Homo sapiens: one gene and its partner. The protein of the gene in region 1 interacts with the protein of each later gene in a pairwise test. Each region holds a gene or a part of one and is shown in the gene's direction. Other genes may lie near its edges. The genes, in order: TMA16 and KLHL2.

What was found.
Region 2: the proteins of TMA16 (region 1) and KLHL2 interact in binary tests that used the Homo sapiens proteins (3 or more experiments, as listed by UniProt).

The regions. Positions count from the first base shown.
Region 1 is NC_000004.12:163,485,120-163,497,786, forward strand, and holds the start of TMA16 (translation machinery-associated protein 16), read left to right. Parts: upstream 1-9,570; 5' UTR 9,571-9,682; coding exon 9,683-9,685; exon of another isoform or gene 9,686-9,777; intron 9,778-10,042; exon of another isoform or gene 10,043-10,105; intron 10,106-12,667. UniProt on the Homo sapiens protein: Involved in the biogenesis of the 60S ribosomal subunit in the nucleus.
Region 2 is NC_000004.12:165,207,813-165,219,880, forward strand, and holds part of KLHL2 (kelch-like protein 2), read left to right. Parts: 5' UTR 1-9; coding exon of another isoform or gene 10-64; coding exon 65-90; intron 91-2,206; exon of another isoform or gene 2,207-2,330; coding exon of another isoform or gene 2,331-2,368; intron 2,369-10,212; coding exon of another isoform or gene 10,213-10,403; intron 10,404-11,831; exon of another isoform or gene 11,832-11,910; intron 11,911-12,068. UniProt on the Homo sapiens protein: Substrate-specific adapter of a BCR (BTB-CUL3-RBX1) E3 ubiquitin ligase complex that mediates the ubiquitination of target proteins, such as NPTXR, WNK1, WNK3 and WNK4, leading most often to their proteasomal degradation.

The DNA.
Region 1 (12,667 bases):
AAGGGTGCACAGGCGACTTTCCAGAAGGGACATAGAGGAAGATCTGAGGGAGAGTATTTAGAGGGGGTTATGTGTCTAGGTGGTGTCACTCAGCAGCATGGTGGGAGTCTCTGGGCAAAGAACTCTGAGAGAAGCAGTGGCCCCAGCGTTTATCTAATCTATGGGACCTATGGTTAGCAGATGTTGGGTGCAGTTTCTCAGGATGTGCAAAGCAGGCAGGCTGTAAATGGCTAACAATCTGCTTTTGGGGGCTATATTTTAAAACAACTGGATGTGTAGAAATTTAAGTTTGGCCGTAGCCGGCTTTTGAGTTAAGAAGTCCCAGGCTGCTGTGAAGAAGTAAACAACACAGGGCCAGGGGCCATTTTAACTCATTTTTGTAACAACTAGCTCCTTATTGAAAGGCACTTTATGATTTTTCCCAAGCCAAAAAGAAAAGAAGAGTCACAAACAGGTCAAAAGAAAAATTACTAATTTATATATGACAAAAGTCTAATTTTATAAGTATAATCAGGACTCCTAGAAATAAGAAAAATGATAAATTAGCACAGCTGTCTCCAAAATCAACCTTGAAAACTACAGAAACAGGAAGAAATTGGCTGTTGGAAGTAAATGAAGACTGTGAGAAACCCCTGGGAAGAAGGGAACTAGTGACTAGAAGGGAGGGAGGCAGCCGAAGAGCACAGCAGTCACATGGGGAGGAGGATGTCCCTGGAAGCTTGGGAGGCTCTGGGGAGGTCATATATAATCTTAGCTCTTGTCTCCCGTACTTCACCTGGGAAGCTTTGCTGCCCTCCCAGTGTTGTGAAGCACTACCAGAGGAGCACAAGGCCAGGCTAATAAGGAGCTGATAGAAATAGGACTAGGATGAATTGTACCCTGGAATGTTCAGGCCTCCAACTCCTGTCAGCAGAGGTTATTGGTCCCTGGAGCTCTCTCCTCTGAAACTTAACCCTTCTGCTTTCCTCAAATTCTCAAAAAAGGATTCAGTTGAGAATGTGTCTTTGAGCACTTCCCTAATAGACAACACAGAGCAGTATAGCTGATTTCATCAGTAAATTAATGTGATGCTACAGGTTCAAAGAAACTAGGTACCTATATTAGTCCATTTTCACACTGCTATAAAGATACTACCGGAAACTGGGTAATTTATAAACAAAAGAAGTTTAATTGACTCACACTTCCGCATGGCTGAAGAAGCCTCAGGAAATTTATGATCATGGCAGAAGGTGAAGGGAAGCAAGGCACATCTGACATGGTGGCAGGAGAGAGAGACAGCAAGCATAGGAAATGACAGACACTTATCAAATAACCATGTCTTATGAGAATTCCCTCACTATCACAAGAGCAACATAGGGGAAACTGCCCCCACGATCCAATCACCTCCCACCAGGTCCCTCCCTTAACATGTGGGGATTACAATTTGAGATTAGATTTGGGTGGGGACACAGAGCCAAATGATAACATTCCACTGCTGGCCCCTCCCAAATCTCATGTTATTTTCACATTTCAAAACCAATTATGCTTTCCAAACAGTTCCCTGAAGTCTTAACTGATTCCAGCATAATCTCAAAAATCCAAGTCCAAAGTCTCATCTGAGACTAAGCAAGTCCCTTCCACCTACGAGCATGTAAAATCAAAAGCAAGTTAGTTACATCCAATATAAAGTGGGGGTACAGGCATTGGGTAAATGTTCTCATTCCAAATGGGAGAAATTGGCCAAAATAAAGAGGCTACAGGCCCCTTGCAAGTCTGATATTCCGATACCCAGCTGGGCAGTCATTAAATCTTAAAGCTCCAAAATCTCCTTTGAATATAGAGATGGAAAATACAAAACATAAATACAAAATATAAAACATGATGCAAGGCAGTGTACAGCTTCTGTGGCTGCTTTCACAAACTGGTGTTGAGTGCCTGCAGCTTTTCCAGGAGCACAGTGCAAGCTGTCAGTGGATCTACCTTTCTGGTGTCTGGTGGATGGTGACCCTCTTCTCACAGCATCACTAGGCAGTGCCCCAGTGGGGAATCTGTGTGGGGGCTCCAACTCCATATTTCCCTTCTGCATTGCTCTAGCAGAGGTTCTCCATGAGGGTTCTGCCCCTGCAGCAGACTTCTGCCTGGACATCTAGGCATTTCCACACATCCTCTGAAATCTAGGCAGAGGTTCCCAAACCTTAACTCTTGTCTTCTGAGTACCCACAGACCCAACACCACATGGAAGCTGCCAAAGCTAAGGGCTTGCACCCTCTAAAGCAATGGCCCAAACTCTACCTTGGCCCCTTTTAGCCATGGCTACAACTGAAGCAGCTGAGATGCAGGGCAGCATGTCCTGAAGCTGCACAGAGCAGAGGAGTCCTGGGCCAGGCACACAAAGCCATTTTTCCCTCCTCACCCTCTGGGCCTGTGATGGGAGGGGCTGCAATGAATTTTCTGACATGTTCTGGAGACATTTTCCCCATTGTCTTGGCTATTAAAACATTCAGCTTCTAGTTACTTATGCAAATTTCTGCAGCTGGCTTGAATTCCTCCCCAGAAAATGAGTTTTTCTTTTCTACCACATGGGCAGGCTGCAAATTTTCCAAACCTTTATACTCTGTTTCACTTTTAAACATAAGTTCCAATTTCAAACCATCTCTTTGTGAATGCGTATAACTGAATGCTTTTCAGAATAAGCCAGGTCACCTCTTGAATGCTTTGCTGTTTAGAAACTTCTTCCATCAAATACCCTATATCATCTCTCTCAAGTTCAAAGTTCCACAGATCTCTAGGGCAGGGGCAAAATGCTACTAGTATCTTTGCTAAAGCATAGCAAGGGTGACCTTTGCTTCAGTTCCCAATAAGTTCCTCATCTCCTTCTGAGACCACTTCAGCCTGGACTTCATTGTCCATATTACTATCAGTATTTTGGTCAACAAGCCTCTAGGAAGTTCCAAACTTTCCCTCATCTTTCTGTCTTCTTCTGAGCCCTCCAAACTGTTCCAACCTCTGCTGGTTACCCAGTTCCAAAGTCGCTTCCACATTCTCAGGTATCTTATAGAAATGCCCCACTACCTTGGTATCAGTTCTCTGTATTAGTCTGTTCTCATACTGCTATAAAGATACTACCTGAGACTGGGTAATTTATAAACAAAAGAGGTTTAATTGACTCACACTTCCACAGGCTATACAGGAGGCATATAGGGAGCCCTATATGCCATATATGCCAAGGAAACTTGGCAGAAGGCAAAGGAGAAGCAAGGCACTTCTTACATGGTGGCAAGAAAGAGAGCAGGGGAAATGCTGGACACTTATCAAACAACCAGATCTCATGAGAACTTCCTCACTATCACAAGAACAGGATGGGGGAACTGCCCCCGTGATCCAATCACCTCCCACCAAGTCCCTCCCTTGACATGTGGGGACTACAATTCAAGACGATATTTGGGTGGGGACACAGAGCCAAACTATATCAGTACCTGAGGAGAACTTATAATAAAAGAAACTTGAAGCACACTGAATAACACATACCACATGAAGCAGATTTATTGGAAGAGATGGACCAATAAGCAAGCACCATATATATCTGCAAGAGTTAAGGAAGGATATTGATGATAGAACAAAGAAATAAGAAATTACTTTTAAAAATTGTAAATATTTATTTTAAAAATGAGATAGTTAAAATGAAGATGACAATAGGTGGGATATACAGCAAGATGATTACATCAAATAAGAAAATAGTAAATCAGGGCCAGGCGTGGTGGCTCACGCCTGTAATCCCAGCACTTTGGGAGGCTGAGGTGGGCAGATCATGAGGTCAGGAGATTGAGACCGTCCTGGCCAACACGGTGAAACCCCATCTCTACTAAAAAATACAAAAAATTAGCCGGGCATGGTGGCGGGTGCCTGTAGTCCCAGCTACTCGGGAGGCTGAGGCAGGAGAATGGTGTGAACCCGGGAGGTGGAGCTTGTAGTGAGCCAAGATCGCACCGCTGCACTCCAGCCTGGGCAACAGAGCGAGACTCCGTCTCAAAAAAACAAAAAACAAAAAACAAAAACAAAAAAAACAGAAAATAGTAAATCGGAAGATCAATAGAAACTCTCCCTAGGGCAGCAGAAATAAATAAAGAGATGGAAAATACAAAACATAAAAATGAAAAGGGGGCAATAAAAGTTAGGGAGGATAGTATTATCAATGCCCAGATAGTATAAATTCCAAAAGCAAATTGAAAGAGGCCACAGATTACCAAAGATGTATGTAACAAAATACCAATACCTAGAAACATAAAGTAAAATTGAAGAAGAGCAAAGACAGCAGATATTATTAAACAATTCCGCAAAGCTAAACCACTCACAAAGGAATGAAATTTAAGATGCAACTTCACAATAGGAATATTGGACTCACATTCTCCAAGAGAATATGAACTAATATATTTGTGGTTAAAAAAATTTAACATATTGCATTGTGAAGTGTGGCATATAAACATAAAAGTGCACAAAATGGAAACGTGAAAAAGAAAGAGTAATTATAAAGCAAACACCAAGGTAACCACCACAGAGGTGAAGAATATTGCTGGCCACCTATAAAAGTATCTGTAAAAAATGTAATCCATTTTGCCTGATTTTAAATTTTATATAAATGGGATTATACTGTATATATTTTTTTGTGCACTGCTTCCTTTACATTATGATAAAAATTTATCCAACTGGTTTAGTGTACTTGTCCTTTGTTCATTTCATTGCTATCTAAAATTTACCACACAACACTGTTATTACAAATAACACTACTGCTATTCTTGTATATGTACCCTGAGAGAAATGTGCCAGAGTTAGTCTATGGTATATACCCAGGAATGACACTGCTGCCTTAGAAAATGTACACATTTTAACTTTTAGGTAATGCCTAACTGTTTTCCAAAATTGTTAAACAAAAGTTGGCTCTTTGAAGTCAGGAATAAGACAATGTTGCCTGCCCTCTCTCCCTCCTTGTCTCCCTCTCTCCCTCCCTCCCTTCCTTCCTTCCTTTTCTTCTCTTTCTCCTTTCTTTCTTTTTCTTTCTGCTTTCTGTCCCTTCTCTCCGTCTCTTCTTTCTTTCTTTTGAGATGGAGTCACTCTGTTACCCAGGTTGGAGTGCAGTGGCAGGATCTCCACTCACTGCAACCTCCACCTCCCAGGTTCAAGCAATCCTCCCACCTCAGCCTCCCAAGTAGCTGGGGTTACAAGCATGCAGCACCATGCCTAGCTGATTTTTGTATTTTCAGTAGAGACAGGGTTTCACCATGATGGCCAGGCTGGTCTCACACTCCGAACTCCTGACCTCAAGTGATCTGCCTACCTTGGCCTCCCAAAGTGCTGGGATTACAGACGTGAGCCACTGCACCTGGGTGTATTTTACAAAAATCTAGGCCTGTAATTTTAACATAGGAAAATATTTTATTATTCTTAAAAAATTTAAAAAAAAACACCTTTGGCTCTCCCGGTCCTCAATTACGTAGGTTTTTGTCCTTGTTTCAATAGTTTATGCTTTTTATTCTATTCTACCTCCTTTTTTGACCTTATTTTGTTGGTTTTTTTTTTTCCCTAACCTCTTGACATATGGATGGCTAGTTCTTAATGTTCAGTCTTTCTTCTTTTCTAATATTTATACTGAAGCCTCTAATATTTACATGAATGGAGCTAATTATTACTTCAGGTGCATCCCACTAGTTTGGATATTTATTGTTTTTGTTATTGTTCAGCCCAAACTATTTTCTAATTCTCATTATGACTTCTTTAGTTCCTGACTTATTTCAAAGCACAATTTTTAAATTTCTCAATATATGACAATTCTCTAGTTGTCTCCTTGTTATTGGTTTCTAGTTTAATTATGAGGTGGTCAGAGAACATATTCTATAGATTTAAATCCTTTCAGATTTGTTTAGACTTGCTTTCTGACCTAATGTGTGATCAATGTTGTTAACTATACCATACGTATTTAAGAACACACGTATTCTTGTAAGAACTGGAAGCACTATTCTGTGTAGATTTGTTAGGTCAAATTTTGTTGTGGTCAAGTCTTCTCAGTCATTGGTGATTGTTTATCTGTTTGTTCTATTATTTACTGAAAAATGGCATGCTAAAATTTCCACCAAGGCTGTTGGTTTTTCAACTTGAAACTGCATCGGCTTTTCCATTATATATTTTGGGGCTGTGTTACTAGATGCACATGAATTTAAAATGGAAACTTTTTATCATTATGAAGTGATCTTTTATATATACCATATTACTTTTTGACCTAAAGTCTATTTCGTATAACATTGATATATGTATACCAGGATTGTTTCAGTTAGCATTCACCTAGCATAACTCTTTCCATTTATTTTTCTATTTTCGTGTACCTTAGATGTGTCTTATAAACAGGATACAGTTGGATGTTTTCAATACAATCTGACTTTTTTTTAGTTGGGGGCAGTTATTTCGTAATTACTGTTTTATGGATTTAAATCTACTGCCATATTTTTTTTTGTTTTCCTGTCTTATGTTTCATGTTTTCTCCTTTATTTTCTTAGTTGGAATTACCTGAGTATATTTTAATCATTCCATTTATTTTATTTTCTCTACTTGTGTGTAGCCTGTACAAAGTTAGGTACCCTGTTTCTATTCTTTTAGTTGTGACACTAGAATTATGCATTTGTACTTATTGTATCAATACCTAATGTTAATCAATACTTAATCCTCACACATACATACAACACACACATACACACACATCTGAGTATATTTGTTAAAGTACAGGAAAATATCTCTAAAGATGTCTCCAAATCATCTACAGTGGTTATTGCACGGGGCAAAGGGGAGGTTGAATTGGGAGGGGAAAAGTTGGGGGATTCATTTTGCTTATCACAGTGGTGCATACATATATTAAACAATGACAAAACATTAGCCATCATTATTATCTTTATTCTTGCTCTGTATAATTCATGTTTGTATTTGCTACAGTGTATTTTGAACATATACAGTATATTTTTAACATGTCTATAATCAATGTTATTTAGGGGTTGAATCTGAATGAGGAAAATATGAAGATTTATTTCTAAAACTCAACTAAAAATAAAAAATAAAAGTTTCAAGATATATGGTTTATTGAGTTGTTGGCAATTTGAAGTTTAGGAATGGGTTAGGAGTAGGTAGGAATTTTATGATCAATAGAGCAATCAGTAACAGCTAAAATAGCCAGAAGGAAAATTTAATAATTAAAAGATTTGCAGTAACATAGAACTTAGGAGGGTGATCTCCACAGGGCCAGACTTAGGGAATGGGGTAGGGTGGGTGAAAGATGGCTTCACAGGAAGTGGCTAAAGTATGGAGCTAGGGTGTAAATATTCTAGATTAATTGGAGTCTTTCACAGAGTACCGTCATGTGCATGTAACAATGTTTTGGTCATGGACTGCATTACAATGGTGATCCCATGAGATTATATTTTTACTGTACATTTCTTATGTTTAGATACACAAGTACTTACCATTGTGTTACAATTGCCTACAGTATTCAGTAGAGTAACATGCTGTACAGGTTTGTGGCCTAGGAGCAATGGGCTATACCATACAGCTTAGGTGGGTAGTAAGCTATACCATGCAGGCTTGTGTAAGTGTGCTCTATGATATTCACATGACAAAAAACAAACAACAAAACCCCCATTGAAATATTTCTCAGAAAGTATCCCCGTCCTTAAGTGATGCATGAATGTGCTGCCTCCACAGTATATATTCAAAGGTGACCTTCATTGCATAGATTCACACACAAAAAAAGCCATGTGAAAATACCTTGCCCCTAGATTCAGGAATCTTCTGGACACACTCTTGTTTACAATTTAAATTATTTCCAAAAATTGATATATCTGTCGATTAAATACAAGTATTTGTGCGGCAGGAGAATAGGGTCTGGAAGCAGGGAAGCTAGGACTGATTTGTGCTGATGGGATATCAGTTGAAAGACTACTCCCCTTCAACCCCTCCTTTTTCTGCATGGCAGTTGCTGCCTGGCAGTTGCAAGCCCTTCTTTTTCTGTGTGGCAGTTGAAAAATGAAAGTGCCTCAGATTGGTCCCCTTCCTCAACCAATCAGACTTGTGGAAGACCAATGGGAAACCTCTAGAAGGTATTTAAACCCCAGAAAATTCTGCAACCTGTGCTTTTGAGCAGCTTGCCACAGCCTGCTTCCACGCAGTGGAGTAGTGTACTTTCATTTAAAATAAATCTCTGCTTTCGCTGCCTTGCTTTATTTGTGTGTTTTGTCCAATTATTTGTTCAAAACGCCAAGGACCTAGCCAACTACCCTCAACTGTTAACAGCTGCACACACATATCAAGGCACACCAGCTTCACCCTGCCTGGAGCTTCTTCCCATGCCTAGTTTTCTCTTACAATTCCGGTCTCTGCTCAATTATCACTTCTAAAAGAGGACTTTATAGAGACCACCATGTGTAAAACAGCTTTTCTACATGCCCCCGCCAGCTAATTTTTATTAGAGTACTTATATTATTTGAAATAATATTTTTACATGCCTCCATCCCCTGGAAAATGAGCTGAGTGAGGGATATTGTTGGAGTATCCCCAGTACCAGGCACACAGTAGGCATTCAATAAATAGTTTTTGAATGATTACATTGTCTACGGAATTCTAACATGTATGGGTGAAACAAAGACTCTCACATGCTGTGAGAAGAAAACAAAAACTGGGTTGGCAGAGGCCTTGAATATGAGGAAGTGGCCTTTCCGGATAAAGAAACTAAGACTCGGCCGGGCGTGGTGGCTCAGGCCTGTAATCTCAGCACTTTGGGAGGCCGAGGCGGACGGATCACCTGAGATCAGGAGTTCGAGACCAGCCTGGCCAACACGGCGAAACCCCGTCTCTACTAAAAATACAAAAAAAAAAAAAAAAAAAAAAAATTAGCCGGGCGTGGTGGCGGAGGCCTGTAATTCCAGCTGTTCGGGAGGCTGAGGCAGGAGAATCGCTTGAACCCGGGAGGAAGAAAGAAAGAGGGAATGAGGGAAGGCGGGAAAGAGGGAAAGAAGAAAAGAAAAGAAAGGAAAGAGAAGAGGGGCGGGGCGGGGCAGGGCAGGGCAGGGCAGGGCAGGGCAAAAAAAGACTCAGTGCAGGAAAGGACTTGCCCAAGGTAATCTAGTACGTGGAAAAGCGGAGGGCAGGAGCCTGTGCCGTGCAAGAGCTCCGGGGAGCCAACACCGAGCGGCCCTTTTGAGAGGGTCCCAGCCCCTGAGATGCGGGAGCCCGCAAGAGGGAACCTCTTGTCTGAAGAGGTTGCTGCGCTCTGGAGTCGTGCTCTGGGACAGATGGGCAAGCTCCGCTCTTGGGGCCGGAAGCGTGTAGCGTCTCCACCCGGGCTCCAATCCCCAGCCTCGCACTCAGCACCAGGCAGAGTTCAGCCTCCCGCCGCAAGCTCCCTTCCGCCGCTCCCGGCGAGCACGCAGGTCTGGCTGTCCGTTGGGCTAGAGCTTAAAAGCCCAACACGGGCGAAAAAGACGCGGTCTCAGTTAACGGGGACGCTTTAGAGAAACGCACTCGCCTCTCCTGTTCCGGTTGGGTCGGCGCGGGCTTCTCAGGCGCCACGTGGGATTCGGCCCGGGTGCTCTTGTGAGCTGCTGCTCCTGCGGTTGGTGAGATTACCTGGGTCTAGAGTGCGGAGCTGCTCCGTGGCCACGAGGACGTCACCATGGTGGGCCCCCTCCTGCTCCCCCGAACCGCTCGGTTGGTTCCCCGGAAGGCTCTTGTTGAGCAGGCAGAGAGGGAGGGTGCGGTTTCGGGAACCTAGGAGAGGGGAGGATGCAAAGTGTTTATTTTCAGGGAGTGTGCGGGGTGCGGGGCGAAGCCTCTGGGAGGCGAGTCCCAGGCCCAACGCCTGGACCTTAGAGTTCCGCGTCCGAGTGCTGAAGTGCTCACACGTCGCCTTGCTCCTCTTTGCCTTGTGCCTAACTTCTCGCTAGTCACTACTTCCTGGGGGAAACCCGGCACCTTTCCATTGTAACGCATCGAGGAGTTTGGCAAAACTTCTGAGATCGCTGGCCCTACACACCTCTGCCTCTCTGGCCTGGGTAGACTCAGTATGTGGGCTTAGTCGCCTCTTCCTCGGCGTCCGTTCACCTCTCGTTAGTGCCCTGAATCCTGCCGTTACGCCCCCATTCGCTCCAGGGCACTGAAGCAGTTTTGTTGTTTTTATTAAAAACTGAGTAGATACAAAAGAGTGTTACTAAAGCACATTTCAAGTGTAAAGATGAACAGTTTCAGGAATTCTCGTTTACCCATTTTGTAGTTTTAAGAAATAAAACATAGCCTTTGAAAGCCCTGTGTTACCTTCTTTGAACTTTCAGGAAACCTTAAGAAGCAAACATTATCTAAGTTTTGTATTTATAATTTCACTACTTTTCTTTATAGTTACTACATATATTTGTATTTTGAAACAGTATGTTGTTTCTTGCCTATTTTTTACGTAATCGTTGTGTTCTTGAGAGTAATTCTTGCATAGAAACATGCTTTATAAATTTTTTTCAATTAATTTTTAATAAAAGCAAAATTTTAAAAGTTTATAATCTGGTCAGAAGTTACGATATTGTGTCCACAATGTGGCCTCTTTGTTTCTTTTCATTTTTTTCTCTTTTCATTGTATGCCATTTTTGTCTTACAGTCTGGTTCTTTCGTTGTTTCGCGAGTTTTTTGTGCTTTATTTTGATCCACTGCTGACGCATATTTTGTACTTTAGATTGTACACATTTGTGTAAATTCAGTGTTTGCTTGTCACTTTGCTTGTGGGATTTCCAACTCTTTATAGTGTTAGTTTTTTTCCCCTTTTCAGAGTGGAATATGAAAGCAATTACATCTCATTGTGTTTGAGTGATTGGGGAGATAGATTGGTATTTGACTGTAGTTGTCCTTGACTATCAGAGCTTCACTTTTTATCAGGCTGTATAGTAGAAGTACGTTGCTTTGGCATAGAAGTCAAAAGAGTGGCATATGAACCTGTTTTCATTGGCTCATTTCTGGCTCTGTCATTTTTTTTTGATATAACCTCATTAGTGGTTTTGCTGCATCCTCTTTCAGTACAGCTCAGAATGTGGTCCCAAAGGACAGAGTTGGGCACCTGTCTTTCCCTGAGTTGCCATCTTGGCAAAATTACTTAACCTCCCATCTGTTTAATTGGGATAACAATAGTACCTACCTCATAGAATTGTGGAAATTAAATGTAAAGTGCTTAGTCTAGTGCCTGGCACTTAGTAAATGTTATTGTTATTAACTTTAGTTATATAAATAGTAACAGTGTACAGCTTATAGTTGTTCATCCTTGTTACTTTGCTCATTAATGTTCTCTTATTGTAAATCTTTGCTGGAGCTTAGCAAGTTCATATCTTTATATCAAAATTTAGTTTACCTGTTATATATAAATAATCTTTTCAAATTAATCCATTCCACTCAACACTTCTTTATGCTGCATTAAAAAGGTTTTTAGTGTTTATTATTTTTTATTTTTTTTTGAGACGGTGTTTTGCTCTTGTTGCCCAGGGTGGAGTCCAGTGGCATGATCGCGGCTCATTGCAACCTCCGCCTCCTGGATTCAAGTGATTCTCCTGCCTCAGCCTCCCGAGTAGCTGGGGTTACAGGTGCCAGCCACCACACCCAGCTAATTTTTGTATGTTTAGTAGAGACAGGGTTTCACCACATTGGCCAGGCTGGTCTCGAACCCCTGACCTCAAATGAGACAGGGTTTCACCACACTGGCCAGGCTGGTCTCGAACTCCTGACCTCAAATGATCCACCCGCCTTGGCCTCCCAAAGTGCTGTGATTACAAGTGTGGGCCACCGTGCCCAGCCAGGATTTTAGTATTTTTAAGTATGGCTCATACAATACTACTAGGCACCCATGGGTATACTCCTTTTTATATAAACCTGTCATAGAGCTTGTGTGTGCTTCTTTCCCTCCCTAGCTAGACTATATACCATTGAAAAGTGTGCCATCATCCTCCGTGCATTTATCCATGCACATTACTGTGGGGCATTAGCTGTTACTGACTACCTTAATGGTAGAGATTGTGTGTTTTGGGGACTACATCTATAAATGTGAGCCACAACAACAAATCAGCTTAATACATCTCATAGAGATTATCTGTTAGTGAAAACTTGCTCCTGAAAGTTAGTAAAACTAAAGAAAAACATTAATGGAAATCTACCTAGTATACCAATCTTTTTGAGACAATATTACTTGTACATGGTTTAAAACACTAAAAAATGGTTTCTCATAAAAATTGTATTAGTTTCTTATTAACTGCCATAGTAAAGTGATATGCATTTAGTGGCTTAAAGCAACACATTCATTTCCTGAAACCTCTGGAGGTCAGAAGTTCAAAAATGAGTCTTAACTGAGATAAAATTAAGGTGTTTGTCAGGGCTGTCTTTCTTTAAGGGGCTCTAATGAATTTTTCTGTTTCTAGAGGTCATCTACATTCTTTGGCTCCTTCCCTCTTCAAATCCAGCAGCATGGCATCTTTAAATTTTCCCCCAGAGAAGGTTACATTTTCTCTGACAGTGATCCTCCTGCCTTCCTCTTACATGGACCTTTAGGATTATGTTGGGCCCACCTGGATAATTTTCCCCATCTCAAGATCTTAATCACATCTGCAAGTCCTTTTTGTCATATATGGTAATATAT
Region 2 (12,068 bases), 1.7 Mb from region 1:
GCGGCTGGAATGGTGCTGGCTGTGTTGGTCGGTGCCTGCGTTCTGAAGCCCGAGAGGAGCCACAATGGAGACGCCGCCGCTGCCTCCCGCGTGAGTGAGCGGGCGGGCGGGCTGCGCCGCTGCGGATAAGCGCGCCGCTGCGGCGCGTGTCGCCGGCCGCGGGCGCAGCTCTGGGGACAGCCGCCGGGGCCGGCGGGAGGTGGGAGATGCGGGGCGTGACGAGGCGCTGTGCCCGCAGTCCTGAGCGGACGCGGACGGAAACTCAGCCTGGCCAGGCGGTGACTTAAAACGCTGCCCAGGATTTCTGGGGAAGGGTCTTCCCCATCTCGGGCGGATAGAAGATTCGGGGTGGGGCTGTGCATGGGTGACCCTGCAGGTCCTGTGTGTACCTCCCTGAAATGCATGGGCACCTGGTGCCGAGTTTGCCTACCCCTTTATAAGAGATCAGGCTAGGATGCACTGAGTCCGTTGAAAAAAGGAAACTGGAAAGTACCAGTCACCCGCTGTCTAAATGAATTGATCTTAGGTTGCTTGATTCCCCGAATTTCTAACAAAATTAATATCTGAGGAGCTTTTGCATCACTCTAAATGAGCGGCGGCCGTTCAGGGCATGTGACCTCTTTTACCTGGCACTGCAGAACGTTTTATCCAGAAATCAGCATCTTCTGTTTCGTTCGTACCTCGGGCAAATTAGTAGCGTATCGACCTGCCAGGCACAGGTGTCTTTTTTCTTTGGTACCCAAGTACATTCAAGATCACTGGCAACAGAATTACTTTCTAGAAATAATAGCTGAAACATTATGTAGAAGACATTATTGCATTATTCAGAACAAGGGTTTTTTTTTTAAATTTTAGTTTTTAGTTTTAAAAACATCTTGGTAAAAGTGAACTGTAAATACCCAGGAGTTTCGAAAATTTCAATTTTGGTTCCCTCTTCTCTTAGGAAGGAACAAGAGTCCTTTGAATCTGACTTTTCAAATCGCAGACAAACCTCATCCTGAAGAATGGTTTACCTTTTCATGAGAGCTTATTCATGGAGGCTTGTCGTTCTCCGGTCAAATTTGGCAAGCTTCACTCCATGCCGATTGTACCGCACCAGTCTCTTGTGGTTATTTGGCAGAATTCCAGCCAAAATAAGGATACTTGGCTTGGGTTGAATAATTTTTTGATGTTCAGCCCTTTTAGGAGAGCTAATGGGATTCTGGAACGACAGTTTCTAAAAGTGCGTTTCAGAATTTTTAGCTTGAGTGGAACAGGTCGTGGAAATCTAGGGGGTAGATAAGACTCTTGAATTGGCCTTCCTGGGCTGACAGAAGCAGGGGCTTAGTCACCTCTCGATAGCTGTGGCTTTGAGGGCTCTGAGATTTGGTCATGTTCTTCAGCAGGCTGGAGGAAGGCACCTGAACCCCTAGGAAATATGATGGTGGATGGTTCACATCAGCAGCATGAGCACACGGGGGTCTGCCCAGGCTCAGAAGCACTTAAAGCAGGATATGCTAGCTGTATTTAGCCAACATATGGTATATAATATGTAACATGTAGGTATGCTATCTGTAGTAAACCTGCCTTCTACATAAGTTCCTGCAGTTCGTTTTTACTTTTGGAACAGAGGGAGCTAAAGGAAAGAACAAGGGAATACTTAGAATGCAGGTGAAAAGAAGGGTGTGGGAAAGCAGCCTCTGGAGGGAGGGAGGGAATAGAGACACAGATGATTTAAATTGAAATAATAAAAAATAGAATTGATGTATGCATTGAAACATTGATAAACTGACTCTAGGGTAGATCAGCTAATCATAATTTTGATGACCAGCGCCATTTTTGGCATTGAGATTCCATCAATAGTGCTGGAACAATGAGAGGCTGAGATATAATGGAAAACTTGGAATGCCAGCATGGATGAAAGAATTGTTAAAACTCCTTTCAATCAGGGGTGGCTAAAGTTGGTGAGACTTTTTCATTGTTTCTGTCTATTTAATTATAAATACAAGTAGGTTTTTATTTTCATTTGGTTCTGTCCAGGATTAAACCTAATTCAAGAACTCGTTATGGTGTTATTTGCCATTCTGTGGATCAGAAATAGTTTTTTTCCTTGCCACCCCTTGGCCTGTTTGCCTCCACTCCCATTAACATCCCTCCACCATGGATCCCGTGTGCCGGATTTGAGACTTGCAGGCAGTGTCTTTAGGAAGGAACTTTACCGGGCCTCACTGCCAGAGCTGGGCTAGAACAGAGGCCAGTGGAAACTATTAGGAAGACTCAGCTTTTCATGAAGTTAGATTTTTAGCCTGAGCTTTAAGTCAAAGAAAGATGACCTGGACTTAAAGTGCCTTATGGTATGGTTGGAAGCACGGCCCCAGATTCTCTTTGTGTAAGTGTCTGTTTATTAATTCATTCAATGTGCAAATATTTGAATGCCTGTCTCTGCCTGGCACTGTGCGTGGTGCTTTTGCTTGTGTTCTCTTTTAACATCCAAATTTACATTGTTCTCAGATCCCACCTTGTTCTCCACTGGCCTGTTGGCACATTGTCTTGGAGGGAGGTCAGGCATCTGTACCCACCATTCCTGGTTCCTTCAGGATGGACTCCTTGAAATTAGCTTTTGATCTTTTGTGCTTTTTCTATTCCTTGCCTCCAACTTTCATCCTTTTTAATTCTCATATAATTAAAAATTGTCGTTGGACTATATATTTGTGCTTATTGTTTTTTGCATACTTGAGTATATGTGGCATTTAGATTCTGTTGCATTCTGGGTCTGGGTGATATTGAGACTGTGTTACATTTGCTTCTGATCAAACCTGAAAGATGTGTAACTAAAAGATGTAGCTTAGTAAAGGAATTTCAGGTAGTAAATTGAGAGATGTAGTTTAGATGTAGATTAGTAAAGGAATTTCAGATGGTAAACTGAGATGTGCAAAAGGAAATGTAAATTGACCAGCCCTGACCTCAGGAATGTATTTTACAGTCTGGCTTTTATAGTTATTTGTATAAAGGATTTTCATAATAAGTTGAAGGAAGACTGTGAGGTATAGGCCTGAGTGCATCCCTCTGATCTTCTCTTACTGATCAGTCTTCTTGGCACTTGTTTTTTTACTGGCTCCATTTTCACAAGTCGGCTTACTCTCTGTAAGCCTTGATTTTTTTGCTTTTCCTTCACAAAACTAAGCAAACATCCCTCAGATAGAACCATATCTTTTTTCAGTTGATGGTTCCACATTACTAGAGACTTGTCGTCAGAGGTGGTCATGCATAGGCAGAAAAACAACTTGTTGACCATGTTCTAAGGCATTTAGGCAGCAGAAAATTGGTTGGATTAGAGCAGAGGTTCTCACATTTTTGAATTTAACTGACCTGTAAAATTAAAAAAAGAAAAAAACAATTGAAGTCTAACAATTGCTAAGTTTTTTGTTTTGCTAAGTAAAAGAATTATTTATGAAACAACAATGATCAACTATCACCATCTTTTTATGAAAGAAAAAAACATTTTAGTATCCTTCCTCAAATATAAGGAAGAATATAATCTGACTAAAGGATTGTCTTTAAATTTAAAAAACTTAGCCTTATGAAAACTTATTACATTGTCCTCATTTTGACATAGATCAGTAAAAAGTTCACTGAAGCCTGACATTTGCAGTCCGCTGGACCGGATGACCTTTAATGTTCTTTCTAAGATTCAATTGCTGTGAATTTGGAACCTTGCTACAGGATACCCAGTATTCATTTGTTTGTCTGTTATAGTGCATTGGAGTGTATTCTTATTTTTGTTTAACTAAATGTACATTGGGCATCTCTCATATCACAGGTGAATCTCCCCAGTGATAGACAAAGACATTTAAAATATTTAGGAGTAATAATGGCCCACAAACAAGGTAATGGTGAAAGAAGACATGTGGATCAATGTGTGTTGAAGGAAGTGTTACATATAGAGACAACTTTGAGGTGCATTTGGGAACTTGAGAAGTGAATTCTGGAAATAGGTAGCATTTATGTAGTAGTTTAAAAAATTTCTGATGCTGGGAAATCACTCCACCTACTCCCTGCAAAATGCCCCAAACCTTTTGTTTCTGATGTACATGGTAGGCATGCAGTAACTATTAGTAAATGTGCTTTTCTGAAGGTGACTGTAAGTTTACTCATCTATGGCTGTTACGGATTTACACTAGTAGTGCTTATGAAGACCACTGAACTTCTTTCTTAAGATCAGGCAGGTTTTTTCAAGGTGATCCAGAGAAGGAAATTCACTTTATGTTGCATTTCTGTAGTGTTCTACCAAATCCAAATGCATTTACTCTTTATGATGAGGTAGTTTGAGTTTTTAATTTATATTTATTGAGTGCCTACTATGGCCAGATTTTGGGGATATCTCAGAAAACAAAGTTCCTTTTCCTATGATTGAAACTAATAGCAAACAAATATGTAATATTGTTAGTAGTATTACAGTAAACAAAAATGAAGCAGGATAAAAGGGTAGAGAATAATAAGAATAATAGTTCAGATAGGGTCAGGGTGTCTTTGACGAGGTGATATTTTAGCACAATCCAGAGGGGGAATAGCATTCCAGGGAGAGAGAATAGCAAGCACAAAGGCATTCTTGAATTCTTCCCCTGATGAGATAATTGCTGCAGTGAGTGGGTCCGTAACTTTTTGTGTGTTACGCACTGTACTTTCTTACATTTCAGACTATTGGCATTTGCTAAAATATTCCTTTGACCAGTTCCATTCTCTGATTTTACCTTGAAAAACAAGCCCCTGCTTTTTATGATAGCTCTTTTTCTTGTTTTCCTACTCTGGTTTTTAGGTTGCTAAATGTGATTTGCATACTTTATCACTTAATCTCACTTAGTCTTGTCAACAACCTTATAGTGGTAGGTGTCTTATTTATCAGATGAAGAAGTAGAGTTTAAGTTACTCTCTCAAGCTTATCAAGTATTAGAAAAAGTGGGATTCTAATCTCTCTGTTGTATCACTTTTTTCTGTCTTGCATGACTTCTCTTCTATCACTGCTTGTGGGCAGTATTTCCTCACGGAAGTAGGCCTTGGCCAGTTCTTTTCAATCACCTGTTAATCATTGAGCTCTAGCTCCATCTATATCTTAAGTCGGGGCTCTAGGTCTGTGCTTTGGTGTGGAATTTTGAACTTCTCACATCTCTACTCTTAGCTCATGCCTCTAAACCCAATATATCCAAAACTGATGTTTGTTCACAAACTGACTTCATTTTATAACATTTCCACTTATTCAATGGGATAACCATTCTTCTGGTCCCTGATAACCAAAGCATTGGAATAGTCTTTGATTTCTCTCTCTTTCTTCATCCTCCACATCTTATCAGTCCCCAGGAACTGTGGTCTTGGTTTCAAGTGTCCATTCTGGTTGCTACTATTCTGATGAATGGATTTCATCACTTGATACCTGAACTTTTTCACTGGTCTTCTATTGAGCTCTGTGTATTCTCTCCTCATCCTTCAGTCCCCACACTGTTTTAACCCTCCAACATCTTAGAGTCATGTGAAGTGACTTATCAAAACCAGAGACTCAGGCAGTCACAGCCTTTCATCATTTTATCTTATCCTATATATCCAAGATCATCATGTGCTTTTAAAACTCTCCCTTGTCCACAAGCCAGGATTCTCCAGCCTTTTCCTATGCTTCTCTTCTTCTCTCCCCTGTTACAACAACTTGAAGTTCCTCCAAGGCCCCATTGGAGCCCCATCTCCTTCACCAAGTCTTTCCTCTTTACTCCAACTCATTCCAGCTCATCGTTGCATTCCTATGGTGTTTGTCACTGCACCTATGTACTGACTTGTGCCATTCCTTAGTGGTTTCCCATGTACCTTCCTGTTTAGATGGTAAATGGAGGAAGATCTCAATTCAGCCTTCCTAATGTTTCTTACCCTTCTTAGTACATGGCATGCAGTGGGCATCTAGGCAGCACTTAAATACTTAATTTATTGGCTTTGGTCATTTTGAATATTGCTATTAACTTTGAATTGAATGTTGCAATTAAAAATGAAGGCCAATAAGATCCATAAAAATATATCTGCATATTCAGTTTAGATCCTGAATTCAACAATTTTCTTCTAAACTTTGTTTACATTCATATAGTGCCTAGTGCCTATACAGCTCCCTGAGATAGGTAGGTGAGATATTACTATCTTTGACTTTCATATTACATTTCACATCAGACATATTTGTGAAATAAATTTTATAAGTAGTCTGAAGCCCAGAGAGGCTAAGTGACTAATCCAGGGTCTCTTGGTTAGTATTTGGCATAGACAGAACTACAATTTTGGGCTTCTTTCTGATTCTGGTTCTCATCTAGTACCTTTTCATTTCAGTGCTGGAAAATGTATCCCAGTCAACTGAATTGCGGAGTCGTATTGCCGCCCCCTTACCAACGAAGTGATGGCAATAGTAGGAAGAGGGGCAAAGGAAAAGTCAGAAATATAAGTGATAAAATAAATGGAAATGTTTGAAATGGATCATCAACCTCCTTTTCCCTATTTTAGCACCTCACAAATATCCCACTCTGACAATGCTTTGTTAGTTATTTATAAAATATTCCTTAGGAGATTGATCTTGCATAAGACATGCTTTTACCGTGGTCCTTTTCCTGGTAATAGTCACTGTCAGGGACAAAAAGTGCCTGATTGTGTTCTGTTTGTCATGTAGGTGGGAGGGAAAGAGGGAGAGAAAGCTGAGTTGAACTGAAGCAGAGCTTTTTACAGCTCCATTGTTCTACTATCAGAGAGCAATTATACTCCAACTTCCATCCACCTCAGACATCCCAACCTCCTCCTCCTGCCAATGCTTCCCCACACACTTAACATACAGCCGCACAACTGAGTTCTCCAGAGAGAATAGGGTGCTCTTTAATACCTCCCTCTGCCCTTCAGTGAGTTCAGGGCTCTGCTTTTTAACTGCTAATATATTTTAGTAAAGTTTGGCAATTCAAGCTTTTCTAGATGTTTCCTTTTCAGCTCTGGAAAATTGGAAAAATAATTTTTAACTATATATGTTTAAAATATTCAATGGCATTATGATATTGTCTGAAAGGCATTCTGTGACTTGATGCAAGATCAGAAGTTTTTTTTTTTTCTTGGAGAAGTAAGTAATACAAAGAAAAAAGAGATAGAAGTTTTTATCTCACAAGATACCTCATATTCAGTTCTACATACTGAAGACCTAATCCAAGTTCTTACATGTCTATAGGGCAAATGTTAACATTTTTAAAAAGCTCTATTTATTTGGTAATATGAACATATGTTTGTAGATTAGTCTACTGTTTCCATACCTAATAAAAGTTTAAATTCCAGACATGTGAAGAAAATTTGCAGTGTGTCTCTTTGCCTTAGCTAACTGCAAAAATTGAAATCACAACCCTACCATAGACCCAAACGTGTTTCCAACTGAGAAAGTCTTCTACCTTCACAGCCTCTAAGTAATATAGTGGTTATTTGTTTGAAGGATGTGAGAGTATTTTGTTGAGAAACTGTAGAATGACATAACAAATTTTAGTTAAAATGTTAGTTATGGTTGACTCTGTACTTCTGATATCCTGGATTTGTTTATGAGAGCAATGCTAGTAAGATGCCTGCTTCTGAATGCAAGTTTGGCTGGGAAGACAGCAGAGAAATAGAAGAAATATTATAAAGTAATGGAGAAACCTCAAAACATTACAGCATGGATGTTGACTTTGAAAACAACAGCTGCTGACGTGAACTTGGCAGAAATTTGTGAGTAATGGTGGGTGACTCATTGCAAGCAGGGGAGTCTTGCAGCTTTTGAGGTGAACAGGCAAAGGGGAGAACAGTGATGGTGGCCACCCAAGGGCCAAGTATTTATGTCCTAAATGTCAAAATGTCTTTGATCTCCTGTTAAACTTTGCAGCTGCATCATTCACATGAATGGTTGCATTTTTTTTTTCTAAAAATACAACATATTTTCTAAAGCATTTGTTTTTAATCTGGGATGATTCTGAGGTGGGAGGTAAGTTGGTGGCAGGACATATTACATGACTTTTGTTATTATTATTATTTTTAAAAATCACGCATTGCTGGCTTTCTCCTATACTCCTGGAGATGCCATCATGTATGTATAGCTAATTCTAAAAAGGGCTTGTGTGACTCTTCATGTGAGAAGGGGTGGTTATTTGTGGCTTGAAAAAATTGCTTGGGTGATTCTGATCTTTCTCTTTCACGCTGCTGAAAACCATTGTTTCAAAGCCAATAATAAATATCTAAAGAAGTTTTACTTCATTTCTGTGGTGTTCTCAGAATTGTTACAGCAGGTTTAAACCTTTGCCTGGTTTGGAAATCTTGACTATTTGAGAGAGACAGCCCTGTTAGAGTCTTTGTTTTCTTCCTGTCTGAGAATTCAGTTATCATCAATAGTGTATTCTTAGGCAGAGTCAGAAAGTCACCTCATCTGAGAAGCCACCTGTGTCCACAGCTGGGAATTTGCAGAAGTCAGTCACTGAAGGAAGGCTTTAGGATATCTATGATAAAACATAGCAGTACACTGGGATCCAAACCCTGGGAAACCTCAACTATTTTAGAGTATGTGTTGATAACAATAGGCTATTGGATAATTGCCAGACTACTTGAGGAGTCTAAGAGTTGCATAAAGACTTAAAGGTGAAAGGAACTTGGAAAAATATCTTCTTCAGGTATTTTAAGGGAGACAGTTCTCAGAATGAGAAGCTTTTCTGGAAAAGGCTAGCACTTTGCTTCAGAAGAGAAGCAGGGCAAAGGTGTAATTCTTCATTTAATGTGGTACAACCTAAAGGGTAAACCTTTACCTCTCACTTAACTAGTTATTCCTAGTATGTATATGTATATATGTCTCACATCTATAGTTTTAGACATTATGCATCATTTTCTGTTCTGCTTCTGAATGAGAAGCCATCTAACACAAAGCCACACAGGGAATGGAAATTTATGGAAAGGGCATTCGTTTTGAAAATGGACGTTTGCAGAAGGGGTGATGTATTTGTAAGTGACTCTCGGTACAGAGAACACTTAACAAAATTCAGTGTTTTTTCTTACTTATTCCTTTAAGCCTTTGAATAAAGTCTTCTTTGCAGGGTTTCTGTAGTACATCAGAAAAAGGAGGAGCTGAAAATAGGTTTAAGAGAGCACCAATGTGGGCATTGATTGTTGTATGGCAACTGTCTTAAAGTGAATTCTCCAATGCAGGGAATTTTAATTCCTAAGTTCTTAAGCAAATATAAACACTCCTGACTCTTAAATCATGACATTCTTTCTGGGGCAGAGTTGCTTTTGCTTCCACTTTCAAGCATTGAAAATTCTTTTATGATAGTTTTGCTAATCCTCAGTATAACATTCTTCCTTTGTTGCACCTTCTAAATTATTAAACTAGAAGCAAATATAGAATAAGTATTACCTTGCTATCGTATATAGACATGCAGTGTTACATGGTTAGAAAGTTTGCATGGGTTGCATATATCTACGCATTTTCCCCTTTCCCTGGTTTCTTACTGTTTCCTTTACAGGTAGAATGAGAATATCTGTCTTATACTATAAAGTGTTTCTCCAGTTCTCTCCCTCCAGACGTGAATGTTCTGCCATCTTTTTGGCTTCTAGACTTATCAGTGCTTTTCCTTTCTTAGACTGGGTGTAACTAATTCCCTACACACACACCTTCAAGAGGGCATAGGGAGTAGAGTGGCACCTCCTTATTCTCCCACTTCAGCTGTAGGCTTTCCCTGTGGAGGTAAAGCCTTGCGCTAATTCATTTGTTAGGCCCCTTAAAAACTCTCAAGCGGTGAGGAAGTAGAACTGATGTGCACTTGTAGTAGGCAAGCCCTCAGAGAGTCAGGTGCTTCAACTAGTGCTGATTCTGGGGTTTGGGGTTTGCTTAATTTTAGAGGTTATATTCATGTTGAGTACCTGTTTCATGGCTTCGTGTACCATCCATGTAACCAGTGATTCCCACATTTCTGACTCCAGCTAAACTTTTCTCTCCAGCTCTAGACTCCAATATTTATCTGGTGATTTGATGCCTTCACTTGGATGTCTGATGTTTTAAAACCATTAGGTATAAAAACAGCTCTTGATCTCTGCCTATCTCAAACAGTTTCCACCTGCAGCCTTCTTCATCTCAATGAACAGAAACTCAGTCCTTTCTCTTGTTCAGGCCAAAAGACTTGGAGTCATTCTGACTTTCTTTGACATGTCATATGGTTGTTTCAACAGATCTCGTTGGCTGTATCTTCAAAATGTCCAGAACCCAGCCAGTTTTCATCACCTCCACTGCGACTGTCCTCCCTAAGCCACTGTCATTTTTTAGTGAATTATTGTAATATCCTGCTAAATAGTTGCCCCCTTTTCATCTTTGACCCGTGTAGAGTGTTCTCAACCAGCAGCCAAAGTGGTCTTTGGAAAACGTAAGTCGGATTGTATCACTCTTTTGCAGTGTCTCCTCATTTCACTCAAAGTGAAAGGCCTTAGGATATCCTAAAAGGCCCTTTGTGATCTGCACTCCCCTCTCCTGCTCAGCCCCAGCCTTTTGCCAAAGCTGCATGGGTCACAGTTCCTGGAACATACCAGGTACATATTGGCCTTTGCTGTAGTTACTACTTCCATCCGGATGTTCCCACACCCCCTAGTCTTTTGTTCAAATCTCAGTTCTCAACTAGGCCTTCCCTGAGCACCCTATTTACTGCAGATTACACCCCTCCACCGTCCCCACATTTCTCTCTCTCTTCACGCTGCCCTGCTTTTTCTACTTCCATAACACCATTTCCCAACATGCCAGTTGCTTCCCTGACTTGTGCTGTCTTTCCCTTTCCCCCCACCAGACTCCAAGCTCTATGAGGACAGGGATCTTTGTTTTATTCACTGATATATTCCAAGTGCCTTAAGAGTAGTGATTGGTACATGGTTGGTACTAAAAACAATTGCTGAATGAATTAATGAACGATAATGTTTAAAAATGAATCATCCTTTTAGAAATGGGTCAGGAAAGGAAGAGAAGTGCAGCAATTAATAATGATGTTTGCTTGTTCTTTGATATATATACAAGTATGATATTTTTAGACTTCATTTTTTAAGCCTAGTTAAAAAATTGGTGCCCTGATTTTTTATGTAATAGCTTTATTGAGGTATAATTTACATACCATAAATCCACCCATTATAATTGTGCAATCTAATGATTTTTATTAAATTTATAAAGTTTTATAACCATTGCTTCAAAAAGTTGTCTTGTGTTCATTAATTTGCAGTTAATTCTTGCCCCCCTCCTCATGGGACCCTGATTTTTTTGGTTAATTTTATGTCCTAAGTCTTGAAAGAATAATTCATGTAGCAATGCTAGTATAGCCTTGTGTGCTTAAAAAATGTAAATTTAAATATTCACTGTTCAGTGTAGGAAATGGTATTGAAATATTAGTGAAAAGAACAAGATGGAGAATCAGACTGGCCATACTCTTACCCAGCCCTACCATTTACCCCGTTACTCAAACTATTCTCTTCATCTGTTAAATGGGGATAATAATAGTAATTTGCTCAGAGAGTTGTTGTGAGGATTAACCAAATAATGAAAGTAAACTACTCAGCACAGGGCTGCCATATGGTAAATACTCAATAACTATTAACTAACATGATTAATCTCGATTAATCTCTTGTTAGTATAGGTCAAAATATATGGGGTTAATATATCCTGGCAGGTAGAGAGCAAAATTTAAATCAGATTCTAAGTTTCTGAAGTTTGTGTAAAATATGATCCTGCTCTGTCTTGGTTTGTTAATAACGTATGACTATAGAAGTTTGTAAAAGCAAGTTAATTTCCAATGGAGAAGATCATTTCTCAACAGTTTTATTTGGAGATATCTGCTAAGCCACTTCTGCTGAATATTCTGTGTTGATCTTTGACGGAACTTGGACACCAGGGAGGTAATTACCCACTTTTTAATTGAAACCATAGTGTCCATCAGAAACTGTTCTTAATTGTCTTAACCTTACATTGGGATATTCTGTCCATGAGACTTCCTCTAAATAAGTAGGGGAAGGAGACATTCATTGTCTCTCTTGTAGCTTGATAAGCTGAACTA